Linked DNA regions of Homo sapiens. The protein of the gene in region 5 interacts with the protein of the main gene of each other region in a biochemical or structural test. Each region holds a gene or a part of one and is shown on either strand. Other genes may lie near its edges.

Region 1 (3,500 bases), on a different chromosome or scaffold from region 5:
TACAGAGCTCACGAGCCAGTGAGCGTCGCCCAGGGCTCCGTCAGGCCTGGACACTCACTGTAACCATGGCAACTGGGCAAACGCCCTGTACAGCTGTCCCTCCATCTGCAGAACGGGAGCCCACCTGGCATAACCTTGCATCGCGACCCCAACTTTCTTATTGAATTACAGAGCATGAGACAGAGCTTCTCCTTCCCTAACCCCTGGACACCAGTGCCCCTGAGCCAGCCACCAGTGCCAGAGCCGCAGCAGACACAGTGGAGCCACGGCCTGAGTGTCGGAGGCCATGTGTGTGAACAGTGTGTGCACAGTGAGCTCCGGGCCCTGGGCAAGCTCTGCCTGCTCAGTGTTCACATGGCACCATGCGTGACATCAGCTACCTGCACAGGGACCTTGGGGACGTCTGCCTGGGGTGCATCTGTCCTGGCCACGGTGGAGGAGAGTCTGGCCAGCTTGGCTTCCACCTCGGCAAACGGGTCCTGCAGGCCTAGTAACCCCTGCAGGGGCACCTCCTGCGGCTCCTCTTGCGGGAGGTAGTTCTGTTCCCCCAGCAGGTGCCCAGCGGCCTCCTGCCCGAGGCACTCATCCAGGAAGTATCTGCTCCTGGACTCCTCAGTGGGCATGGAGACCTCCACGTTGGAGGGCTCCTCAGGCCCAGGGAAAGCCTCGGACACAGAGGTTTCTTCGAGCGAGGATGACTCACTGGAGCCCAGAGAAATCTCAGATTTGGAGGGTTCCACCTTGGGCAGCTCCGCAAACCTGGAGGAAACCTGAGTCTTGGAGACATCGTCACTGGGCAGAGTGTCAGTCGTGGAGAAGACCTTGGGTTTCACCACTGTCTCATACTGAAAAGCAGGCGGGTACTCAGCGCTGCTGGCAAACTCAGCCCTGGACATGACCTCAGCCTTGTAGAGGACTCCCACCTGCAGGACAGCCTCTGCAAAATGGAGAACTTCCTTCAGGTTTTTAAAGGGTCAGAATGAGAGACCCTTCCCTAGAAGGTGGCTCCAAGCCCAGTGTGTTGTTTTTTTTGTTTGTTTTTTTTTTGTTTTTTTTTGAGACAGAGTCTTGCTCTGTCGCCCGGGCTGGAGTGCAGTGGTGCGATCTCAGCTCACTGAAAGCTCTGCCTCCCAGGTTCATGCCATTCTCCTGCCTCGGCCTCCCGAGTAGCTGGGAGTACAGGCACCCGCCACCATGCCTGGCTAATTTTTTTTGTATTTTTAGTAGAGACAGGGTTTCACCATGTTAGCCAGGATGGTCTCGATCTCCTGACCTCGTGATCCGCCCCCACTCGGCCTCCCAAAGTGCTGGGATTACAGGCATGAGCCACCGCGCCTGGCCCAAGCCCACTGTTTCTAAAAGACCAGCTTAAGAGTCAGAGCCTCCCAGACCCTCCAGAGGCTGGCTACAGCCTGCCTGCCTTCCCATCTCTGCTTTTATCAGAACCCAAACCCTACCACCTTCCACCTCTTCCAGGAAGCCTTCCCTGACCAACGCTGGGATTCCTCCATTTTCTGACCTCCACAGCCACTGAGTGCTGGGCTCTTAAGTCACACCCAGCCTTGGGACCACTCTTCGCACACTGGCAGGCTTCCTGGGGCCTTGTTGCCTTCCAAGGCTGAGAGCTCAGCAGATTTCATGCCCGGGTGCCCTCGGAGCCCTCACTGGAGTGGCCAGCCCAGGGCTCTTGTCCACTGGATATGCTAGATCCACGGGAGCTAAATGAATGCTGTGGATGAATGTCAGAGCTCCAGAAGCCAGACGAAGATCTGCTGGAGGCCTCATATTCAATCTGGACTGGAGGGAACACTCCAAAGGGCATAAAATGCTAGAATCTGCTCCCTCCCCTTCCCCTGGGTCTCCTCCAGGAGCGCGTCTCCCTTGCAGCGGAGACAGGGCTGCATTCACATGGGCCCCTTAGTGCTCCAGTTCAGGGGGCTCCCGGCGCCTCTCATACCTCCCACCCATTTCTTTATCGTTATGTCCCAGACTCCTGTAAGAGGGTCTTGATTTTTCCCTTTGCTGAAATATGGCACCCACTCCCTAGCTAAATGGCCTGGATCTCTCTCAGCCTTGGTTTCCACACAGTTATGGGAGGATTCAGGGAGTCCTACCTCGCTGGACTGGGGAGACCAGAGGCTCAGTGAGGAGGTGCAGGTAAAGCACCCACACAGTACCCGGCACGTGGTAATGTGCCAACAAGCGGTACCGACGGTGCGATCAGTATCATCATCATTCCAGGCCTGGATTCTACACTATTCATGAGTGCTAGGAAGTCTGGACCTCCAGGCAGCATGCGTGTTTGACTGACACTGGTATGGCAGAATATCCTAGGGTGGCAAAAAGAAGACAAAAACTAAAGGCTGAGTGCAGTGGCTCATGCCTGTAAGCCCAGCACTTTGGGAGGCCAAGGCAGGTGGATCGCTTGAGCCCAGGAGTTCGAGACCAGCCTGGCCAACATGACGAAATCCCGTCTCTACTGAAAACACAAAAATTAGCCGGGTGTGGTAGTGTGCACCTGTAATCCCAGCTACTCAGGAGACTGAGGCACGAGAATTGCTTAAATCCGGGATGGGGAGGTTGCAGTAAGCCAAGGTCATGCCACTGCACTCCAGCCTGGGCGATGGAGCAAGACTCCATCTCAAAACAAAGAAATTTTTTTTTAAAAAAAAAGAACACAAAAACCTCCAGATAGGTAAACAGCTGTGGCTAAGGATTAAATCCTTATTATGGAATGTGTTTGCTTTGCTAACAGAGAGGCTCAAAAGTAAGAGGAGACCGGAAAACACAGCAATTCGGGGCAGGGACTGGCCTCTAAAGAAAGGGTGGCACTTCACAGCTCACAGTCAGCCTTGAGCTGGGGCCCAGTCCATGGCTAAGCCATCCCAGTGCAGTGCTGTGGGTGAGAACACTGGCTCTGGGGCCAGACTGCTTGGGTTCAAATCCTGGCTCTCCTTTACCAGCTGTGTGACCATGGGCAAGTTACCTACCCTCTCTGTGCCTCAGTTTCCTCATCTATATAGCGAGCATAATTGTGGTACCTACCTTACTGGACCATTGTGAGGATAAAACAGACCTGATCCTCGGGTGTAGAAAATGCTCTGTGATGCAGTTACTGCAGTGAGGCGGAAAGGAGGCCACCTTCCCTGGAGACAGCCTCGGGGGGCAAGGGGTGCCCACCTGTCTCCTTCCGCAGGTTCTCCTCCAGCGTGGACAGCCTGACGTCATATGAGTTGCGCATGGCAGTGATGTCTTCCTCCAGCCTGGCCCGAGACTCCTGCTCGGCCTTATAGTCGGCTTTCAGCCGGGCCAGGCGCTCTTCATACTCCTGGGGGGGTGGGAGGGACCAGAGGGCAGGCAGCATTTTATCATCATTTTGAAACCCAGCTTTCAGTATTCCTTTTTGGTTATTCAAACAATACAGAACCTATAAGTAAGCCAAGAGAATCCAATGGTACAACACTGTGATAATTACTTGCCGGTGAAGACCTTTCCAAACT
Region 2 (3,500 bases), on a different chromosome or scaffold from region 5:
GGTGTGTTTTTAGGGGCTCTAACACTTCAGTTGAACCGAACCCCATGTCTGGAGACCTAACTCCAGAAGTCCTGAACTTGGGGTGTTCCACATCCCCGATCTTATCTTACCTGAGGAGAGATTGACCTCATTTCCTAAAACATTTCCAAGGTGGCATTTCCAGTTAGCTTATTGCTGCTTTATTGTATGTGTTTGCCCAGGTGGGGAATTTGTCACCAAGCTGGGTTTGTCACTGGAGGCAGGGTGGTGGAAAGCCGAGGGTTGGGGTGATAGGGTTCCGTAGACCCTGGGAAAGCTGCGTGTGGGTTGGGAGTCTCCGAACCCCTAGGTACTATAGTCAGAGTTTGGCACATGCGTACATTTTTTTCTGGAGAAAAGGTCTATAATTTCATTTTATTCCCAAGAGGTTTTATAACCTAAAGGCCAATACCACAGGAGTCCAGGTGCCTTTGGGTAGACTTCGAACTCCCCCCGGACAGAGAATCATGCTATGCTCATTCCACCCAGCCTCCTACTTTTCATTTTTCTTTTCTTTTTGTTTTTTTTGTTTGTTTGTTTTTGTTTTTGTTTTTTGAGACAGGGTCTCACTCTGTTGCCCAGGCTGGAGTGCAGTGGTGCGATCTCAGCTTACTGCAACTTCCACCTCCCGGGTTCAAGTGATTCTCCTGCCTCACCCTCCTGAGTAGCTGGTATTACAGGCGCCCGCCACCATGCCTGGCTAATTTTTGTATTTTTAGTAGAGATGGGCTTTCGCCATGTTGCCCAAGCAGGTCTTGAACTCCTAATCTCAGGTGATCCACCTGCTTCAGCCCCCCAATGTGCTGGGATTACAGACTTAAGCCACCGTGCCCAGCTGCTTTTTATTTTTAATTTCCACCTCTCCAGGCAGGGTCTACAGTTTCCCTTTTTGGCTGGGCACGGTGGCTCACACTTGTAAATCCTAGTGCTTTGGGAGGCCGAGGCAGGGTAGATCGCTTGAGCCCAGGAGTTGGATACCAGCCAGGTCAATGTAATGGGGACCCTAGAAAAATTAGCTGGGTGTAGTGGTGCATGCCTGTAGTCGCAGCTACTCGGGAGGATGAGGTGGGAGATCACTTGATTCCAGGAGTTTGAGGCTGCAGAGAGCCATGGTCGTGTGACCGCACTCCAGCCTGGGCAACGGAGCGAGACCTTGTCACTAACAAATTAAACTTTTTTAAACAAAAGTTTTCCCTTTTGATTCTCTTTTGCCTACCTCCCCCACTTTTCCCTTCACCTCCTTACTTCCCTTTCATGATATCTGCAGCCACAAAGGGTGTCGCCAGCTGCCTCCAGCCTGCTGGAATAGTTACGTGCTGTGGTACACAGGGTGGACGATATTGTTACTGGCCAAAGAGTGAATATTTCCAGCGTTTTTCTCTGTCTGTTCTTTGATCCTGCTTTCCTTGATTGCCCCACCTTTGTCCTTCCCCAGGATTCACTTTCGTATGAGAAAATGTTTTTCTAGAAAGTAGGTTTGGTTATTTGCACAGACGTACCCAGAGTGAGTGGCAGAGAGCTGTGTGATCTTGGGTCGGGCCCTCGGGGCACACGGCTTGCTCGGGGGTCGGGCGGCGGTCCACAGGGCCATCTGGTGGCCGTCCCCTGACTCTCTGGCCGGGTTGTTTTCCTCTTTTGCAGATCATCCAGTCACTCGATGGGGATTACCAGCGGACCACCTGTTTGTATCACCTTCCCACCTCTCTGTAGCAAGAAAAATCACTTCAGCACCTCTTCAGTAATAATGATGAAACTGGTATTAACTGAATGGCAATTATGGATTTTTAACTCTAATTCACAGTAAACCAGCAAGCCATATGTTTAAAATCCAACCAAAAATCGTTCTGTGTTGCTGCATGTCTCATACCGTTGTGAGAAGTTGTGAGATAGCCACTTGTGCAAAGAGGAATGTAAGTGTTACCTGCCCGAGGAACACAGCAGAAGCAGAAAGAGAAGACGTCTTAATTTATCATTACAGATATATGAAAGCATTATTTATATAGATAGAATATATAGATAAATACATATATTTTTGGTGGTAATGAAAATGGCTCCGCAGAATGCCGACCCGGAATCTATGCAAGTTCAAGAGTTATCCGTGCCCCTGCCGGACCCGCAGAAAGCCGGAGGCGCAGAGGCCGAGAACTGCGAGACCATCAGCGAGGGGTCCATAGACCGAATCCCCATGCGCCTGTGGGTGATGCACGGGGCGGTGATGTTTGGCAGGGAGTTCTGTTACGCCATGGAAACCGCTCTGGTCACACCAATACTGTTGCAGATTGGTAAGTCTCCTCCCCGTCTGTGCGCAGTGAACGCTGAGCGGAGTGCTAGCGGACTGGGCGTGGCTCTGATCCTCTGGAGGCAGAGGATGGTGCGTCCTGGAGAGCCCCGGGCACTGGAGTCTTTGTCTCCTCTCCCTTCAGCCTGCCCTGATGGTGGTTTTCGTCTCCTGTTTTCAGCCAGGTTTGGGGAGGAGTGATCTTCGGATGTTGACGTTGAATTACAGTTTTGGCAAAGTGGTAGCTCAGCATCTGGGGCAGAATTGGCACTGATAAGTACTGGCTCTCGGCCGGGGCTCACCTCTCCCGCTGTCCCTGCCAGGCCACAGTGAACAACGAGGCAAAGGGCAGGGTCGCCAGCACTGACAGTCACTGGCTGTGTCATGCAGGCGAATTCGGGAGCCCTTCTGTGCCACACTCTGATTCTTTGTGTGTAAAGTGATTGCATTCGCAAACCAACCCTAAGAGGGTCCCAGGTGTGCTTAGAACAGTGCCTGGCTGTGGGAGATACTGGAAGATGCTGTCATCTTATCATTGTTGCTGTTGACTTGAATCCAAGGTTATTGTGGACAGTAGATGGCTCAGAGACAGGCATTTCCAAAAGCATGGAAATTCACAGGCACGCACAGGTGGGCATGAAAACACGGAAAATCACAGACGCACAGGTGGGCATGAAAACACAGAAATTCACAGACACACGCAGGTGGGCATGAAAACACGGAAATTCACAGACACACAGGTGGGCATGAAAACACGGAAATTCACAGACACGCAGGTGGGCATGAAAACACGGAAATTCACAGACCCGCAGGTGGGCATGAAAACACGGAAATTCATAGACTTGCAGGTGGGCGTGAAAACACGGAAATTCACAGACACTCGCAGGTGGGCGTGAAAACACGGAAATTCACAGACACTCGCAGGTGGGCGTGAAAACACGGAAATTCACAGACACAGGTGGGTGTGAAAACACGGAAATTCACAGACGCACAGGTGGGTGTGAAAACACGGAAATTCGCGGACACGCACAGGTGGGCGTGAAAACACGGAAATTCACAGACACGCAGGTGGGCATGAAAACACGAAAATTCACAGACACACAGGTGGATATGAAAACAGAAATTCACAGACACGGGCAGGTGGGCATGAAAACACGGAAATTCACAGACACGCAGGTGGGCGTGAAAACACGGAAATTCACAG
Region 3 (3,173 bases), on a different chromosome or scaffold from region 5:
GCACTAGGGACTACAAGTTGTGTGGCAGATCTTCAGGCAGCTTCTAGGAACACTCTGGATTGAAGTGGAAAGGAAGCATTTCCTGATTTCATTTTCTAGCTGTCTTTCCTACTCAGGTTCTTTGGGCCATGGGTCATTTCCTAGTGTGGACAGCTCCATAAGCTGTGTGGAGTGTCAGGCAAGGCTGAGCGGATTCCAATATGGGAGAAAGATGCACGGTGCAGGCGCAGACCCAGAGCCCAGCCAGGGTCAGTGTCCCAATGGGAACAATAAGGATCTAGGAGGAAGTGGAACCGGAAGCTGGCTGCTTGCCCAACTGTGGGGTCACTTGGGCTGCGATTTCACCTCCATTTTCTCCTTTGGCTCCTCCATGCCGCAGATGAATTATTTTCACTGAAAATGAAATGCCTATGGCTACAGCCCCACTGAAAGTGACAATCCACGGCAGGGCCCAGGCACTAGGGGCAGGGGAGACTAGGACAATGAAAGACAAATCAAAGTAACTTCCAAATCATGCCATTTATTTTTCCTTAATGGATTTTACAGCTCATCTGAGTCTCTGCTGTGTTCTCTGAGGAGCTGTAGAATTTGTGTCGATGCTCTGTGTCCTCCGTCCTTCCCCAAATGAGCACATATGCAGGGCAGGCAAGAGCATGCTGGATTTGTCTTAGTTGTTAATTCACCTTCTGGCTTCACTGTGACACACATTTATCTCTACATGACATTCTCAAGAAAAATGATTAGGACAGAATCACAGCAAGGAGTGTGGAAGAGGGAGTTTTTTTAAAAAGTCAGTTAAAGAGAAGCAATGAACCACGAGGGTCCTTTAGGTAAAGGACCCCCACTCCTCATCTCTTCCTCTTCATTCTTGATCTTTCAAAAAGAAGCACAGGAAGAGGACTAGGCTAGCAAGGGTGCTGGTAGGCTGCATGGTGCCTCTGTACCCATTAATACCTGTTAACAAAAGGCACCCCTTCCTGCAGGAGGTGTAGCCCTTTCCATGGGGCAAGGCTTGGAGGGGATGAAATATCCTCCAAGAGTTCAGAATCCCCTATGGGCCCTGATGCTGATGGAGATCAGAGCCTCTCACAAGGAGGTCCCAAGCTGGTGACCTGGGAAGGGAGGCACTGATGCTCTGCCTGGCTGCCAGGGGTGTCCTTTCACCACCCCACACACAATCTACTCCTTGCATCTTGGACTCTGTTTTACTTCACAGGGCAGGGATGCAAACACGAAGGAAAGAGGTGTGGCACAGGCACAGTTTTAATGTGCAAACCCTTCCTAATGCAGGATCCCCATTGAACGGCCTGGGACCTGGCTGCCTTTGATGATGTCATATCTCATCTCATGAACCAAGATGGCAGGAATTCTCTGCAGCCAACCTTGACAGGAAATCATCCTGGAAATCCGCTGCTTCCTTAATTCATGCAAGAAACAGGGAGAAGGGGTATGGTCCTCTCATGAATGTTGTGCCATTCAGTTGAGACGTGTCACGGGTTCACCTGACAGCTCAGGGACTAAGGCTGGGTGGACGTCATTTATTAAGTATATTACAGGGCTGCAATTCACCAGCTACCAAGTTGGACTCTTTGCTCTGGAAATTTAATGTGTGGCAGCTGCGTGCAGCCGGTGATGTCCAGCATTTTAAAAAGGTCAATTAAGAAACGGTTGATGGTGGTGCAGCTAATGACAGCCCAGGGGGGTGAGCAGGGCGCAGTAAACAGAAGGGCTGAGACATATATTACTGGAATTGAAGTGTCCCAGTGAAGCGTGGTGGGGAGGAAATCTATTGTCACAAGCCATAAAGCACATCTGAGTTTTGCAGCGGAGAGCAGTACAGCTGTTTCCCTCCCCAGGCAGCGCTGGGAGCAGCCAGTGAATGGAGGGCTCGCCTACAAAGGGGACACCTGCATCAGCTCCATCAATTTGCAGACAAAAATCGCTACCCTCCTCGCTGCCTGTTCCTTTGCACTTCTCGTTTTCCCACTTGGAACACAAGGCAGATGCTGGAGTGATACTCAGAATGTGGGTCATGTTCTAGAATTCCATATTTTAAGCATTCCGGAAGCAGGGCTCCGCCCCTCCTCGCTGCGTGTGGGCGGGCGGACAGCCGGGAGCCTGAGAGTCAACCCCAGCCAGCGCTCTCCTCAGAAGACATCCGCTCCTGCCTCGGTGCGCGCACAATGCAGGCTGCGGATCAGACCCTTTACACTGCGACGGATAAAAGAGGGACACGAAACCCTTAGAAAAAGTCTATTTCGGACTGTGACAGAATTGGCTCATGGTTGGGGGAAGGCACTGTGTGGGGCTCCTTTTTAAAGAATCAGACAAAGGGGTCTTAGAATAAGTGCAGGGCTGCTAGGACAGGCTTTTTTTTTTTTTTTTTTTTTTGCCACATCTACCTGTCAAGCTAGAAATTCAATAGAGCAATGGGAATGCTAATTGACATGCAAAACAGGTCTAGGGTTCCTAGAAATGTCTAATGATCCTCCAATTCATTACGAATCCCGAATTAAGACATGCACTAAATGAGATGGGAGTGAGAACAGCAACCTTTTTGCTTTTCCTTTTTTTCCTTTTAAAACCTGCTTTGGGAAACTTCACAGGTTTTATCATTAAAAAAAGAGTATTGCAATCAGTGGGTTTTGTCTTTCACACACTGGATGTTTATTATTAGAAAATAGCTTCTATCAGCTGTCAGTACCAAACAAGTTGAAAGGAGCGAGCTTCTCACCATATTTTTTTTTCTCCTTAATGATATTTAAATAAACAGCTCACTGTGTGAGCTCACGCCCTTTTTCCCTTTAAAAACTGAATAATTAAATGAAGTTTAGTACAAAACATTCTTCAAATATGACTTGTTCTGCATCTGTTATGCTGTCTCCTTGAGTAATGGACGCGAAAGAGATGAAAAAGACCACTCAGGCTACCAAAGTACCCCAAAGAATCCATACGAGAAACTGAGAAACAAACTAACTCAAATAAGACCCAACCAAACCAAGAAACCAGTTTTTACGTTGACTTTTTGATTTTGATTATCATCTAAGTTTAATATATATATATATGTGTGTGTGTTTGAAATAGTAATAAAAAAGGAAGAATTGAATTGCATCCGTAGCAGGACAACCTTCCTCATACGTTAAAGAGGTGTTCAGAAAATTCCATACAGTATC
Region 4 (3,500 bases), on a different chromosome or scaffold from region 5:
CTCATTTAAACTGTGTTTTATTTTGGTATCCAATCATCAGGGTGATTGGGAAATGTCTAGAAAACTCTCAGGCCAAAATACAATGGCCTGGTCACAAAGAGTATAAACATTTTGGCATCTGCAGACATCCTGATCCTCAATTTCAGTTCTCTGCCACAAGGTGGGATCATGCATTCAGCATACCAAACAAATACAAATTTATTCTAAGTTTTAAACTTCTACAGAGGAAATTTTCATATATTATCACTTCTCTTATTCCTATACATTGCTAAATAATCTAATGGTGAAAATATGTATCTAATTCCTGCTGATTTATTTAGAGTATTTCTTATTTAAGTTCATAAAATAATACTTGATGCATAAAATAATACATGTAGAATAAGTATGTGGTGATTATAATAAGAAAACAAATTCACATAACTCTTATTTTTATATGGAAGAACAATCAAAAGAGCCATACATGCCTGAAGAAGAAAAATAAGATGAGGTAGGGGGTGTCTAATAATTAAACCTTGTGTTACTACCACAGGCACAAATAATAATATGATCCAAGGAGGAGAACAGAAAGCTCAGGAAGAGATCTACATGTGGCAGAAACTTGACCTGTGACAGTGGTGGCATTCAGATCACTGGAGAAAGGATGCTGGGACAACTGATTAGGCGTACTCTTACTGTGTTCACTTTGGAAGAGCTGGAAAGCAGCTAGGGGGCAGACATCAGTACAATATACTCCTTTTCTGAAAACTATCCCCCATATCAGCTTTTGTTTTCTAACTTTATAACTGCAAGCATACATTTGGTTTGCTTCTTTTCTTTTTTTTCTTCCCAGGGCATTTCCAACTTTTTGCCTATTTTTCACATTTTCTTAGGAAACATTTTCTGTGAAATTCCAACACAAGACACATGACTTCTAAGTAGTGCTAAGAAAACTAAGAGGATTAGTTTATACAACTAGACATTTCCAAAATAAGAAAGTTAGCAAGATATTGACCAAACTACTCAAGAAAGGCAGTGTAAAAATGTGTAGGCACTTTCTGTTTCCCCTGGAGCAACTTCTAGAGTACCTTGAACATTCTAGGTGTTTAATGAATGCCTGGTACACTGTTACTCTATAATAAAAGTAGATTTTAGTCTGAATTCTCTAGTAGAATGAAGGGCCTTTCAGGCAACATATTTAATCTCTTTATCTAAAAAGAAATTCTGACTCCAAGCTATCATTTGGAACTTACTGTTACAAAGTGTTCCCAGGGTATCATAATCTTCCAAGGAGTCACAGACCACTCGCCATTGAGAAAAGACAGAGTTTGGGCTTATTAGAGTGGAATCAAAGTTGCTTCTGGATCCCATCAAGTCATCCGTGCAGATATCACAGACATTTTTCCCCGTTGCAAAATTCCAGTAAGGAAGGGAGAAAGAAGGCTCTTGCAACATTTCCTAGATCACAGAAACCACATTAATACTCTCTGCTTCTGTTTACAATTATTCATTTCTGTTTGGTCTACTCTCTGACAGTCTATTTCTATTAGCTCTCTTCAGACAATAAGGTACTGGTTAGTATATCAACGGTGTCTGAGGGGCCCAGAGGAGTTAAAACCTTATTTAACAAAGCTGGTAATTTATTACAAGGTGTCATTTAGGCATTAGAGGGAATGAAACTCAACTCATTATGCAGACATTTCTGAAAATGATTTAAAGGGATAAAGGGTCTTCTTTTTCTTTTTTAGGCAGATAATTACATTTATATTGGTTATACAAAAAAGTTATCAATAACAACATCCACTTCTTGGCATTTCCACCTTCTTCCATTTTCCTATCTTTAATTCAAGCATCATTAACTCTTAGTCTGGAGCCAGATCCAGCCTTAAAATATGTTTTGTGGAGTGCTAATTTTTGTTTTGCTTCTGTTTTTAAATTTAATTTGAATGACTAGGCATTTAGATTCTGGTTTGGCAACAGGCCAATGGACTCTTTCACACTGAGCACGGAAGGTGTTTTATTTAGGGAACCCTGCCTTAGAATCTAAACTTTTAAGACTCAGGCTTCTGCCTAAATTTATACTGATAAAAATGCTAAACAGAAGCAGAGTAAATCTTTCTGCCCATTGTTTTTTAGATCAGAGACCTAGTTTCCATTCAAAGCTGATCTCACATTTTTAAAAATGCTGGCCTCAAGATCACATGCTTATTTCATTCGGTTCTTTAAAACATACATTTCCTTGTTATTTCTCATTTCTTTGGTGCCTTGAGAAGTTCTATTTATGGTATGGGATTTAAATGTAGGGATTGCAATTGTTTTATCTTATCTCTCAAGCACTCAGTATATTTCTACTTTTTCACTTTAAATCCCTTCCTAGGAAGCATTTTCTTATCCTTGGGTGTTTTAGAGAGCCAAAAGCTTTCCAAGTTATCCCCAGTTATTGGTCTCCAGGGGTTTGTAGTCCTCCTTTAGAAGCCATCATTGTGGTTCACAAAAATTAGTGACAGCTTCCAAGGGATCATTAAGAATCGGTTTGTGGTTCAGCAACTGACATTTGGGAGCCAGAGCATATTCATGTGGCATTTCAACCACGAATTACATTTAAATTCTAATTTGTTGCATCCCTTGTGCTGTTGGGTCTTTAAAATGTAAGTCATAGAGGTTGAAGTTTACACAGGCAAAATTGAAGCTTTTAGATACTTTCCACCTGCCCTTTCATTTTGGTGTGCCCATGAGAAAATGACTTGAAGGCATGAAGATCTGCAGTCAATTACAAATGACAGATTTATCTATAATCTACTAAATGTCTTACTTGCAATCAGAGCTATAAAATATGACGTTCAGAGTATCAGATGAATTCATTTAATCACTCTCAAACTGCAAATGGATAGTGTACTTTCAAAAGAATATTTTATCCTGTATGTTAGTGCATTAATTCTCTCTCTTCTAACCATTTATTTTTTCTCGGAATAATGCTGGCACAGCATTCTGCAAATTAATAAATGAATCTAAACGCCTTTCCCTTCTTCAGATATTTTTAGCTTAATTTTTATATCTTAACTTGAAGGGGGAGATTCATTGCTGTTATTTCACATAGAAAACAGGTTTACTTTGTGGATTTCCTAGTTGAGATCTAACAACTTAAACTTTTATTTTAAAATTTCCATATTTTTCTCAAGGAACAGAGCAGTTGGTAAAAGAAATAAGAGTAAAGAATCTACGTAACTAGATACTTTAATATGTTTGAAGCTTATCTGCTTAGAAAATAAGCATGAAATAACTGCTTGAGTTGAGGTTCACTTTGTGCCAAATAAAAAGCCAATGTCTTTTCACTAAAAATATTGCCTGACTGATATAATTATTTTGATATTTTTCAACTTTTTTTCAAATTTTACATATTTTAGGTGTACAACATGGTGCTTTGATATAAATATACATAGTAAAGTGATTACTATAGCCAAGCAAATTAAAATATCTGTCCTCTTATATAGTGATGTGATATTTTAATAGGTTTCTTCTGTAAG
Region 5 (3,500 bases):
AGGATCGCTTGAGGGCAGGAGGTCAAGACTATCCTGGGTATCACAGCGAGACTCCTGTCTCTACAAAAAGTAAAAAATTAGCTGGGTGTGGTGGTGCACCTATAGTCCTAGCTACTCAGGAGGCTGAGGTGGGAGGATCGCTTGAGCCCAGGAGGCTGCAGTGAGCTGTGGTTGCACCACTGCACTCCAGCCTGGGTGACAGAGCAAGACCCTGTCTCAGAGAACAAAAGAGGAAGGCTTCAAACATCCAGGACACGGGCTCCGACTGCCTCCTGCAGAGCGAGCCCGCCCCACGCATGTCCCCTGCACCACTCCTTCTCCGCCTACCTCGGCTGGCCTTCTCAGCGCTCAGACCCACGGCTCTTCCTGAACCTGTGGCCCCCCTCACCTGCCGTGATGGTGTCCACCTCCTTGGCTGCCAGCTCCTCCACGTCCGACCTCTTCCTCAGCTCAAACCTCCGGGATAAACCTTCTCGGGGTTTCCATAATTCCTGGATCAAGAGGGGCTTCTCACTGTCCCCAAACACCCGAAAGCACCGGGCCTGCCACCGCTGCCCAGCATCGCCGGCTTGGCCCACCACGTCACACAGCACGTACTGGCCGGCCTGCCTGGGGTCCAGGGCGTACCGCTCCAGCGCCTCCTTCACCAGCTCACGGGCGCTGGAGGTGCCGGTGGCCAGGACGCTCTTGTAGTGGGTTCCTGTGCAGACACTGTCCCCAAACACCTTCAGGACACCAGGGGCCGACAGCTGGGTGGAGAGCTCGGCGGGGTCATCGCTGGCGCCCAGGCTGGAGAAGGTGGAGTCCAGGTCCCGGTACTTGTAGCTCAGCGTCCGGGACAGCATGCTGGACAACAGCTGGCTCTGCCGCTTCAGTTTGCTCTTGGTGGGCGGGGACATGATGAAGTGCGTCCCATAAAACATGGTGGGTGAGGCTTCATGGATGAGGACTGTGGGCTTCAGCCAAAGGATGTGGGGAGGCCGTGACCTGGGTGAAAAAGTGAGAGAGGTTAGCGCCAACCATCGTGACCACCAAGAGCAAATGAGGCCACAGGCGGTGACTCCTGCCCGTCATCCCAGCGCTTTAGAAGGCCAAGGTGGGAGGACGGCTTGAGCCCGGGAGTTCCAGACCAGCCTGGGAAACATAGTAAGGCCCCGGCTCTACAAAAAATTTAAAAATTAGCCAGGCATGGTGGTGTGCACTGTACCCACTGCTCTGAAGGCTGAGGCTGGAGGATGGCTTGAGCCCAGGAGTTCAAGATTGCAGTGAGCTATGATAGTGCCACGGCCCTCCAGCCCGGGCAGCAGAGCAAGACCCCATCTCAAAATCTAATGGACATAACAGGCCGTGGGCATCCTGGCCCCGCAGACCTGACACCAGAGCACCTGAGCAGAGGATGTGGCTGGAGCCTGCAGGGCCACCAGAGACCGAGAGGACTAAACGGGCTGGAGCGCCCTTCAAGGAAAGCCATTACTGGGAAACACAATGAGGTCGCCTAAGTAAGACACGCTCCGCTGCAGGGCTTGGATTTCTGGAAAGTGCTGGGCGCAGCGCCCGTGTGCAGTGAGCATCAAGGAGCGCCCCACCCGGAGCCGGCCCCAGCACCATCACAGCCACAGAAGAGCAGCGGGCAGCCCAAGGGCAAAGCTTCGCCTCTCCGTAAACCTCGTGTCTCCTACCCCACAGGCTGCGACGTGGGAAATGGGTCACAAACACAGTGCAACCAGGAAAACAGGCGAATCGCAGCCACGTTGGCAGAATAGACCATCAGACATTCCAGACACAAACCCCCAGAATCTACCCCTCAGGGCAAGAGACCCGTCCTGGCTTGAAGGAGATACTCCCTGGGATGGCAGCACTGAGTGGCCTCGCAAGCACGGCGGGCACAAAGGGCCCCTCTCGAGCCGGTGCAGGCATGGCCGGAATGCAGGCGTCCCGCCCACCACAGGCCGCGGGTGCCCGGCGCTCCAGGCCACAGAGATGCAGTCTCCTGGGGAAACGGGAAAACAGCCTGGGACGCGTTGGCGTGTCATACAATCACACTTCTAATGTCCGTAGCGTGCCCAGGGCCAGGAGTTCCAGATGGTTTCTCAGTCTCCCTCCAGAACCTCTGTGGGGGCAGGAGGGCAGAGAAAAAGGAAGGCAGGTCTCCGATTTGGAAAAGGTGAGGCTGGACTGCAAGGCAGGAAAATACTGGAAAACTGCGCACACATCTCCCCATTACTGTACCCCACTTCCGTGCTCATGTTCTCACCAAAGACAAAGGTGGCAGACGAGTGAGCCAGGAGGAAAGCCTATTTTCTGGAAAGCTCTGGAAAGAGTGGTCCAGGTCCCAGTGAACACAGCACGGGTCGCCTGCCACTGCGACCGGGGTCAGTACTAAACACCGCAGCAGCCAACTGTCACTGTCCAGGCTTGACTCACTCGTCACGCTGCGGGCGCTGCAAAAGGCTTCTGGAAAGGACGGTGGCTGCCTAGGGCCACAGAAAGCAACCAGGGAACCCCTCCAAAGAAAAGGAGCCACACTGTCCCTTAGGAAACTAAACAGTGGAACCGCCCCAGCCTCCAAAGCTGACACTGCGAACTGGCCTCTTTCTAATATCACCGGGGCGTGGGTCATCTTCTCTGGAGCCTCTCACTGCCCGCCAGAGCTGTCATGGGTGAGTCCTGAAATCAGACCACCACTCGCTTCCTCCAGAACCAGCCCAGGTCAGCCAGCAGCTGTGCTTTCTCCGAGGACCTTGAACTCTTCAGAAATACTTCCGACAGCTTCGCACACCAGAGACTGGGTTCCCAACGCGGACGTCTGCCCTGCGGGGTGGGTGGCTGGCCCTTCTCCTGTTCCTATAGCCCACTGCGGACACTTCACCACGGCAAAGGCTTTCGCTGTGCCTGGCTTTCTGAAGAGGTGAATTTGCTGTAACAGGTCACGGAGTTCCCAGTACAGGTCATAAGCAGATGGAGCCTTGAGGTTCCATCGAGCCAGGCCATAAAGGAGTAAAGGAGCAAAGCCTTTGTTTCTCTTCCTCTGAGGAAGGTGCAACGAGTGGCCTTGTCAAATCCTAAGAAGCTCAGAGCCGGCCGCAGCTTCCCCCACGGACTCATCAAAGGCCTCGGTTTCATTTACAACAAAAGCATTTTCAGACAGTGCTCACATCACAAACGTGCGGCCTGGCCTGTGCACACCACACCAGCGGCTTCCAATCGCCCTCTAGTCTGACCTCAGTCTCCTGTGGTCAGTTTTCAAAGTGAGTACTTGGAATCACAGAACAAAACCCCTCAAAGAGCCTCTCCAGCCGGCACTTATTAACCATCCATGAGAGCTGCACAACCCTGCTCCAAAGCACCTCTCCAGATGCCCCAGGCTTAGAAGCCTCCAGGCAGCACACACTGGCAGAGGGTCGGCCACCACCTTTTCATAGTGCTCATTTCCAACGGGTTCCCCAGGGTGCAAAGGCAAAGTGCAGGTGGTGGATGGTACAGCCTCTGCCACCAGGCAG
Region 6 (3,500 bases), on a different chromosome or scaffold from region 5:
TACCACCCACCTGCCCCACCAAGACCTCACTCCCCTCTGAAGAAAGAGAACTAAGAAGGCACCCCAGGCAGCCCCCACAGCAGCAGCTGCAATACCCTTGGAAAAGGGCCCACAGCCCACCAGGCAGCATGATGGAGTAGAAAGAGCCCTACCCTGGCAGCCAGGAAACCTTGATTCTAGTTTTGTCTCTGCATCAAACGTGGTGCATAACTTTGGAAAAGCCATGTAGTCTCTCTGGGCCTCCATCTTGTCATTTGTACTTGAGGGCACTGAATAAGATGACAGATGATTCATCTCCCTTTTTCCTCTAACACTATAACATAAGGGTCCCATGCTTGGGCTCTGGCATGAGACAGATCTGAATTCAAATCCTCGATCTGTCATTTTATTAGGTAACTTTAAGTCTCAGTCTCCTCAGGTAATAATAGTATACTGCATTGAGTTGTTTGGAGAATTAAATGAGATACCGAGTGTTAAAAAAAAAAAAAAAAAAACTTGGAAGAGAACTTTGTAAATAGTAACTACTGCAGAAATGATAGCTATATCACGACTATTACTACCACTACTATGATGATGATGAGAATGGTGATTACTAATATTAGAGGGATCTCAAAGGAGGCAGAGTCATCTGAGCCAGGGATAGAGAAGCCCTTTCTACTAAACTACTGAAGTTGAGCATGTTGCAATTCCTCCAGCAGATCTAGACATTCAGGCAGGGCTAAGACAACCAGAGGCAAAGTCCACCCTTCCCAGAAGACAGGCCACAAGTGCTAGAGAAGAAAACTCCAACACTAAACCCATGTGGTTCTTTCCTCCAATCGACAAACATTTGTTGAGCACCTACTACGTGTCAGGAAATGTCCTACGCACTAGGAACACCACAATGAACACAAAGTCCTTGACCTCTCAGAGCTTGCATTCTAGAGGGGTAAAGAGACGAGATCCATCTTAAATGTTTCAATATATCATCGTATAATATAATATTAAATAATGATTCACCGATTAAAATTAAAGACAGTGTCATGGGCTGGAAAGCAGCCAGGAGGTTGGGGTAAGGGGACTATTTTAGAAAGCTGGTCAGGAAAGGTCTCTCTGAGGAGTATAATTTGAGGAACAACCTGCAGGAAAGGGCTGGGAGTGGGCCCCATCCATAGTCCCTGCCCCGAGCTCAGCATGGCCAACCTGCCCCGAGCCCAGCATGGCCACCTGTGGCTGGCCCAGCCACAGCACCGCACTTGCTTCATCCTCAGAGCAACAGAGCTGGCCCTCAAGGCTCAGAGCTGCAGCGCAACAGTTCTTCCCCCAGCAGGTCCCGGACCACAGCAGGAACCGGACCACAGCAGGAACCGGACCACAGCAGGTCCCAGACCACAGCCGACCACGGGCCAGCACATTTCTAGGCAGTGAGGTTTTAGAAGGAATGCTTCTTCTTTTGCAAGTCTCCTATCCACACCTGAGGGGTCATGTAAGGAGAACACGGCCGGGGGATACCAAGAACAATCTCTTCTCTGCATTGGGCACAATAATTTACCCCCAAGGCATCCTACTCCCCATTTATCCCCTTTCTCTGGCAATGACGTAACCCTGTCTCCCTAACTCCTCAGGGTCAGCCCCAAGAAGGGAGAGGGATGCTAGAAAGGTAAGACCATCAGCATTTTGCTCTGAGGATTTTGTGATTTTTTTCTTTTAGGCAAAATGTTTTCCAATTTCACTTATAATTACTAATAAAGAGAGACACACCTTCAGCTGAAGATGGGAAAATGGCGTCCGGTAGTTAAGGCAGCCAGAGCCCAGGAGAAAACAGGGGCTGGGCTGCTCTCACGGCCGAGGGTGATTTCAGCTCCTTCAGGCTGCAGCCTCCAACAAGGCCGAGCCGCCCAAGAGGTGGCTGATGCCAGGGGAGCAAGACCACCCTCCCGAGCTCAGCCCCAGGCTCTGTCAAGGCAGCAGGGAAAACCCTCAATTTCACCCACCTCATCCCCTTCTCCCCCTTCAATCTGTATCCGCCCACCAGTCATCCATGAGCCACCCACCCACGGGTTCGCTTGGTGGACGTGGGGATCTCATTTGAGGCTTCCTGCTGGAGGCAGGAGCAGTTTCTTCCCCTCTACCCTCCTCTCAACTACCTTGAGGACTCTTCCCCACTGACCATCCCTGCTTCTTGCCTTCCTTCCCCGTCACTACCACACCTGTCCAGAGCCACCGTATGAGGCTGGATACGCACATATCCAACAAACACAGCCACACCACACAAAGAGGCAGGCAGCCTCCTGCTTGAACCACACGCACAGTGTTGACAATCCTATGTTGTCCAATTGGAGGCACGCTGGTGCTTGACAAAACACAAACACCCTTCCAGTCCCCACCCGTAAACCAACACAAAGGCCACCAAGAATTTCAAGACCCAGAATCATCTGTAGAGAGGAGAACTGGGTCGGACAAAGACATTGTTCCATCCTCCCAACTAACCATCACAACTCTCTGGGATATTCTGCAGTGCCCTCTGGTTCGACACAGCCCACTGATCAGAGCTGTGCGTGTTGGTGTGTGTGAGAGAGTGTACACATGTGTATGGGGGAGGGGGCTGTGGCTCTACTGTCCAGGCATCAAATCTCCCCGGAGGTAACCCCGTCAGACTCTGCCTCCCCCACATAACCTTCCTCCAATGTACCGCAAACATATATTTCATGGATGGTTAAATTGGATCATTATCACTGGGTGCTTATTTGGTCAAAAAAAATTATTAATGTTATCTACCCCCATTCCAATCCCCTGCTTGTGAGGTCCCCTCCCACAAAGACTCTCCAACATGCTAATCCCATGAACTGCGACACACGACAGCTTTAGGGAAAGAATAATGGCGAGAAGAAAGAAGACCGCGGTTGCGGAGAGGAAAAGAGGCTCTAACGTGACCGCAGTCCCCATGCAAAGATGGGGGGAAGGAGCCATGGTGGAGGTAGAGTGGGGAAAGAGGTTAAGGGGAATGAAACCAAGCAAAATGAAGCCCTTGGCGCCTGTGTATGTGACAGAGACTGTGTGTGCAAGAGCGTATGCCAGTGTGTGTGTGGATGTGCCGACTTTGCCCTCCTATCAGAAGGCTGCATCCGTGTGGCATGTAGGAAAGGCCATCGCACGACTGTTGTGTTGCAAAAAAAAAAAAAAAGCAAGGAAAAAGGGAAAAAAGAGCCGCAGAGCCATCAAAATCAGAATTTTTTTCATGAAGATGGAAAGGGCTGGAGGAAGGGGGGGTGCGCCTAGGGTGGGGGGAGCAGTGTGTGGAAATAGAAGGCAAGATCATGGCAGAATTGGGGGAGGATGGAGGGGGAGATTGGTGGTGGGATGAAAAAATTTCACACACACACAGAGACACAAGCACACACAATGCCCAGACGCCAACCCGACCGCTCCACTGTTCATCCAAGACTGACAACCCGTCCCCCATCTCTCCGCTGCCTCTCCATGCCCCCAAAGCTGGTGCCGATGGATTTCTGTATCTCAGT
Region 7 (3,500 bases), on a different chromosome or scaffold from region 5:
CTGTGCCCTGCACTGCACTTAGTGCAGTTCGTGGATCACCTTACTTCATCCTTGCAACAATCCTAGGAAGACGGGGGTTATTAGCCTCGCTTTACAGATGGGAAATCTGACTGTAGGAGAGATGAAGTGAGCCCCTGTCTGTATGAAGCCAGGCCTGTGAGCCTACCCATTGCACCACATTGCCTCCTACCTCTGCGTGCAGAGAGTGGGATAAAAGCTCATGGCTTGCCTATGGCCCATCTGCCTGGACTGTGTCTGTGACCCCCACTTCAAGGCTAAGAGTCAGCCCTGTCAGCCTCATCTGAGCCTGGTTCTCCCTCTATGCAGCCCAGATGCTCCCAGGGAGACCTAGCCGATTTCTGCCCATGCCCGAAGAGTCAGCAGTTTTCCTGGCAGAAGCGATTCCCCAGCAGTTTTTCTCTCCAGCTCAAGCACTGTCCAACAACAGGGTGGCCACTCATTCACTGCATGTGGCTACCAAGTGCTTGGAATGTGGCTACTGTGGACTGAGTTGTGCTATTGTAAAGTCACATCCATTTTGCAGGCTTAGTACAATAAGGAATGTTGACTATTTCGTTAATAACTTTTAATATTGATTACAAGTTAAACAGATAATATTTGATAGTAGTATACTGGATTAAATAAAATGTGTTCAAGTTAATTTCACGTTTTTTTAGTTTAAAAAATGTGGCTGTTAGAAAATTTAAAATTGCATATGTGGCTTGCATTTGTGACTCATATTATATTTCTGTTGGATGGCACTGGCATCAAGTTCCAGCCACCAGGCCCTAAGCCCTTAAAAAAATTCTACCTGAGGCCGGGCACAGTGGCTCATGCCTGTAATCCCAGCACTTTGGGAGGCCGGGGCAGGTGGATCACCTGAGGTCAGGAGTTCGACACCAGCCTGGCCAACATGGTGAAACCCCATTTCTACTAAACATACAAAAAGCTAGCTGGGCGTGGTGGCAGGCACCTGTAATCCCAGCTACCAGGAGGCTGAGGCAGGAAAATTGCTTGAACTCGGGAGGCAGAGGTTGCAGTGAGCGGAGATTGCACCACTGCACTGCACTCCAGCTTGGGCGACAGAGCGACACTCTGTCTCGGGCAAGGGTGGGCGTGGGGAAGACTTCTACCTGCTTTGGGGGTGGGGCTGGGGGCGGGGGCCTCAGGGAAGGATTGAAAGAGCATTGTCCCCCGCAGACCAGAAAGTGCCCATCCTGGTTTCTGGCAGTGGCTGTGGGTGGTTGTGGAGGCTCAAGCCACAGGTTGGGATGGTGGGGGATGTAAGTGGGAGAGATCGACAGTAAGTTTCAGACCATCCCTCCCGCCCAGGCAATTGTCTGCACAGTCTCGGCTCTCCCGGGCTAACAGCTTGGACAAAGGCTCAGTGGGGGTGCCAGCTGGTGCTGGTGGCCTGTGCTTTCAGGTCCTTGCTCCCAGATCAAAGGCACATTGGTCCGTCCTTGCACGGGGCCTCAGCTAACCAGCTCCCCACAGGCTCCGCTCCTTTGAGGCTGCATAGGCATTAACCCTGTCCAGTCTGGAGCCCAGTTCTGGGGGAGATGGGAGAGTCTGAGGAGCCTGTCATTCTCTACTCTTAATCTCCGCCTCCAGCGATCTTGCTAAGTCCTGAAGAATCATCCCCATCCCTCCTGGAGGTGGAGGAGAACACACCCACCCTGAAGCCAGGGAATGCCCTCATTTACATACATTTACATCTCATTTATTCCAACACCCAGGCTGAAGCCGAGGCTAATTCAGCTGACAGGAAAACCCCACCCGCTTTAGCTCTGCTGCTCTGCTGAAGTGATTCCCCAGGCAGGGATGAAATGAAATGGGGGTGCCTGAGACCGGGTCCTCCTCCAGAGGTGGGAGCTGAGGAAGAGTGGGCTCTTCGGCCTGAGCCCTGAATTTTGCCCACCTCCCAAGGACAAACTGGCCTGGGGGTAGCCACTCTCTTCACTGAAAGGTGGGTGGCCCTGCTTTTTTCTTCATAGCCCTTCCCCACAGTAAGGATGGGGGCCGGGGGCTTGGCAGCAGCTTATTCAACCCATCGACTGTTCATCAGTGTCTGGGTGCCAGGCCAGGGGAACTGCAAAAGGCCCAGGTCATTCAGGTACCCCCTCCAAAGTGCATAGGGCACCCCCCTACCCCAGGCCCGAGTCTTCTTTGTCAGCCCCTTTACACATGCCCAGGTCCATCCACAGGGTATCTAGAATATGCTGAGTGGCACTTCGCTGTCAGCCAAGGCAGCACTGCCCCTGGCCCTGGGTCTCCAGGGTGGGGACCTGGATGGTCTAATACCCTGAAACCACAGAGACCCAGAGTTGGAGTGCCAGCTTAGTCACCCAGGGGCATTCCACCCCGGACCCCAGACCATCTCTGTGTAAACACACATGGTATACATAATCAGGCCAGAAAGGTGCCCACATGTGGCCCAGGAAACACCGTCATGGCACACAGGTGCCCGAGACAGCAATCAGCGTTCTAAGTCTCTTTCTAGCTCAATTCCTTCCAACTCATTTTTCTCAATACTTGAGCTGAAAAAAAGCTTCACAGAGGAACTGTGCACTGATGCCATGGCAACTGAGGCATTTATGGGGCACCTACTGTGTGCACCAAGAGAGATGGAAACCTCGGAGGCCCACCTCTAGGGTCTCTTAGTGTCCAGAGGGAAATAAGCCAATCAACCAATACACTAAATTTATGCCACAAAAGTGTCCATGATGTATTATAGCCAAATGTGCAACCCTTTTTTCTTAATATTCTTTCATACTGAGGTACTCTTTAAACACAAGAAAATGCTTTAAGTATACAGTTGGATGAGTTTTGACAAATGCATACACCTGTGTGAGTGCCACTCCAATAAGACAGCAAACATCCCCTCACCCCAGAAAGTCCCACTATTCCTTTCAGTCAACTGCTCTGATTTCTATCACCTAGGTTGGTTTTGCCTGTTCTGGAACTTCATGCATATGGAATTCTACCTTATGGGCTCTTCTGTGTCAGGCTGTTTTTACTCAACACGATGTTTGAGATTTTTACCTTTTATTTGTTGGCGAGTGTGATCTAAGCTCCCTGTGTAATGCACTGTGAATACAAGTCACCCATCTGGGGACGTGTCCTTAATTTGATCATAAAAGGCGAGGACTGGAAGGGACCTGAAGTCCAGCTATCTCTGGGGACCATAGACCCCAAGGGATCCTTAGGGAGTTGTTATCTCTCCTTCCCTCGGACTTCCTGAAACAGAAGCTCAGCAATTAGACATCTAATAGGCACCTAGGCTCCGCAAGCAAGTGGGGGCTTTCCTTGGGTTTCCAGTTTTGCTGGCAACTAGCTGTCGCTTTATTTAACTGGCAGTCTGTGCTGCATCTGACCCAGCACAGTGGTGAGGCTGTCGCTGCAAATGGCCGGCTGAGCTCCCGTGTCTTCTTCTGACCACGTCTATGAGCAGAACATGAGGAACAGAGGCTGGGGTGGGTGGTCTCTGGCCCTCAGCC

Evidence for each region.
Region 1: the proteins of RADIL (region 5) and KIF17 interact in a test that uses a peptide from one of them, tested with the Homo sapiens proteins (one large-scale study listed by IntAct).
Region 2: the proteins of RADIL (region 5) and SLC45A4 interact in a test that uses a peptide from one of them, tested with the Homo sapiens proteins (one large-scale study listed by IntAct).
Region 3: the proteins of RADIL (region 5) and MARCHF3 interact in a test that uses a peptide from one of them, tested with the Homo sapiens proteins (one large-scale study listed by IntAct).
Region 4: the proteins of RADIL (region 5) and TYRP1 interact in a test that uses a peptide from one of them, tested with the Homo sapiens proteins (one large-scale study listed by IntAct).
Region 6: the proteins of RADIL (region 5) and NRXN3 interact in a test that uses a peptide from one of them, tested with the Homo sapiens proteins (one large-scale study listed by IntAct).
Region 7: the proteins of RADIL (region 5) and SCN5A interact in a test that uses a peptide from one of them, tested with the Homo sapiens proteins (one large-scale study listed by IntAct).

What each region holds. Positions count from the first base shown.
Region 1 is NC_000001.11:20,687,008-20,690,507, forward strand, and holds part of KIF17 (kinesin-like protein KIF17), read right to left. Parts: intron 3,329-3,500; coding exon 3,181-3,328; intron 1,817-3,180; exon of another isoform or gene 1,520-1,816; intron 938-1,519; coding exon 381-937; intron 1-380. UniProt on the Homo sapiens protein: Dendrite-specific motor protein which, in association with the Apba1-containing complex (LIN-10-LIN-2-LIN-7 complex), transports vesicles containing N-methyl-D-aspartate (NMDA) receptor subunit NR2B along microtubules.
Region 2 is NC_000008.11:141,252,789-141,256,288, reverse strand, and holds part of SLC45A4 (solute carrier family 45 member 4), read left to right. Parts: intron 1-1,517; exon of another isoform or gene 1,518-1,659; 5' UTR 1,660-2,059; coding exon 2,060-2,300; intron 2,301-3,500. UniProt on the Homo sapiens protein: Proton-associated sucrose transporter. May be able to transport also glucose and fructose.
Region 3 is NC_000005.10:126,867,214-126,870,386, forward strand, and holds the end of MARCHF3 (E3 ubiquitin-protein ligase MARCHF3), read right to left. Parts: 3' UTR 501-3,173; downstream 1-500. UniProt on the Homo sapiens protein: E3 ubiquitin-protein ligase which may be involved in endosomal trafficking. E3 ubiquitin ligases accept ubiquitin from an E2 ubiquitin-conjugating enzyme in the form of a thioester and then directly transfer the ubiquitin to targeted substrates.
Region 4 is NC_000009.12:12,696,385-12,699,884, reverse strand, and holds part of TYRP1 (5,6-dihydroxyindole-2-carboxylic acid oxidase precursor), read right to left. Parts: intron 1,435-3,500; coding exon 1,230-1,434; intron 1-1,229. UniProt on the Homo sapiens protein: Plays a role in melanin biosynthesis. Catalyzes the oxidation of 5,6-dihydroxyindole-2-carboxylic acid (DHICA) into indole-5,6-quinone-2-carboxylic acid in the presence of bound Cu(2+) ions, but not in the presence of Zn(2+).
Region 5 is NC_000007.14:4,877,217-4,880,716, forward strand, and holds part of RADIL (ras-associating and dilute domain-containing protein), read right to left. Parts: intron 988-3,500; 5' UTR 924-987; coding exon 389-923; intron 1-388. UniProt on the Homo sapiens protein: Downstream effector of Rap required for cell adhesion and migration of neural crest precursors during development.
Region 6 is NC_000014.9:78,173,373-78,176,872, reverse strand, and holds part of NRXN3 (neurexin 3), read right to left. Parts: intron 1-3,500. UniProt on the Homo sapiens protein: Neuronal cell surface protein that may be involved in cell recognition and cell adhesion. May mediate intracellular signaling. Functions as part of a trans-synaptic complex by binding to cerebellins and postsynaptic GRID1.
Region 7 is NC_000003.12:38,639,688-38,643,187, forward strand, and holds part of SCN5A (sodium channel protein type 5 subunit alpha), read right to left. Parts: intron 1-3,500. UniProt on the Homo sapiens protein: Pore-forming subunit of Nav1.5, a voltage-gated sodium (Nav) channel that directly mediates the depolarizing phase of action potentials in excitable membranes.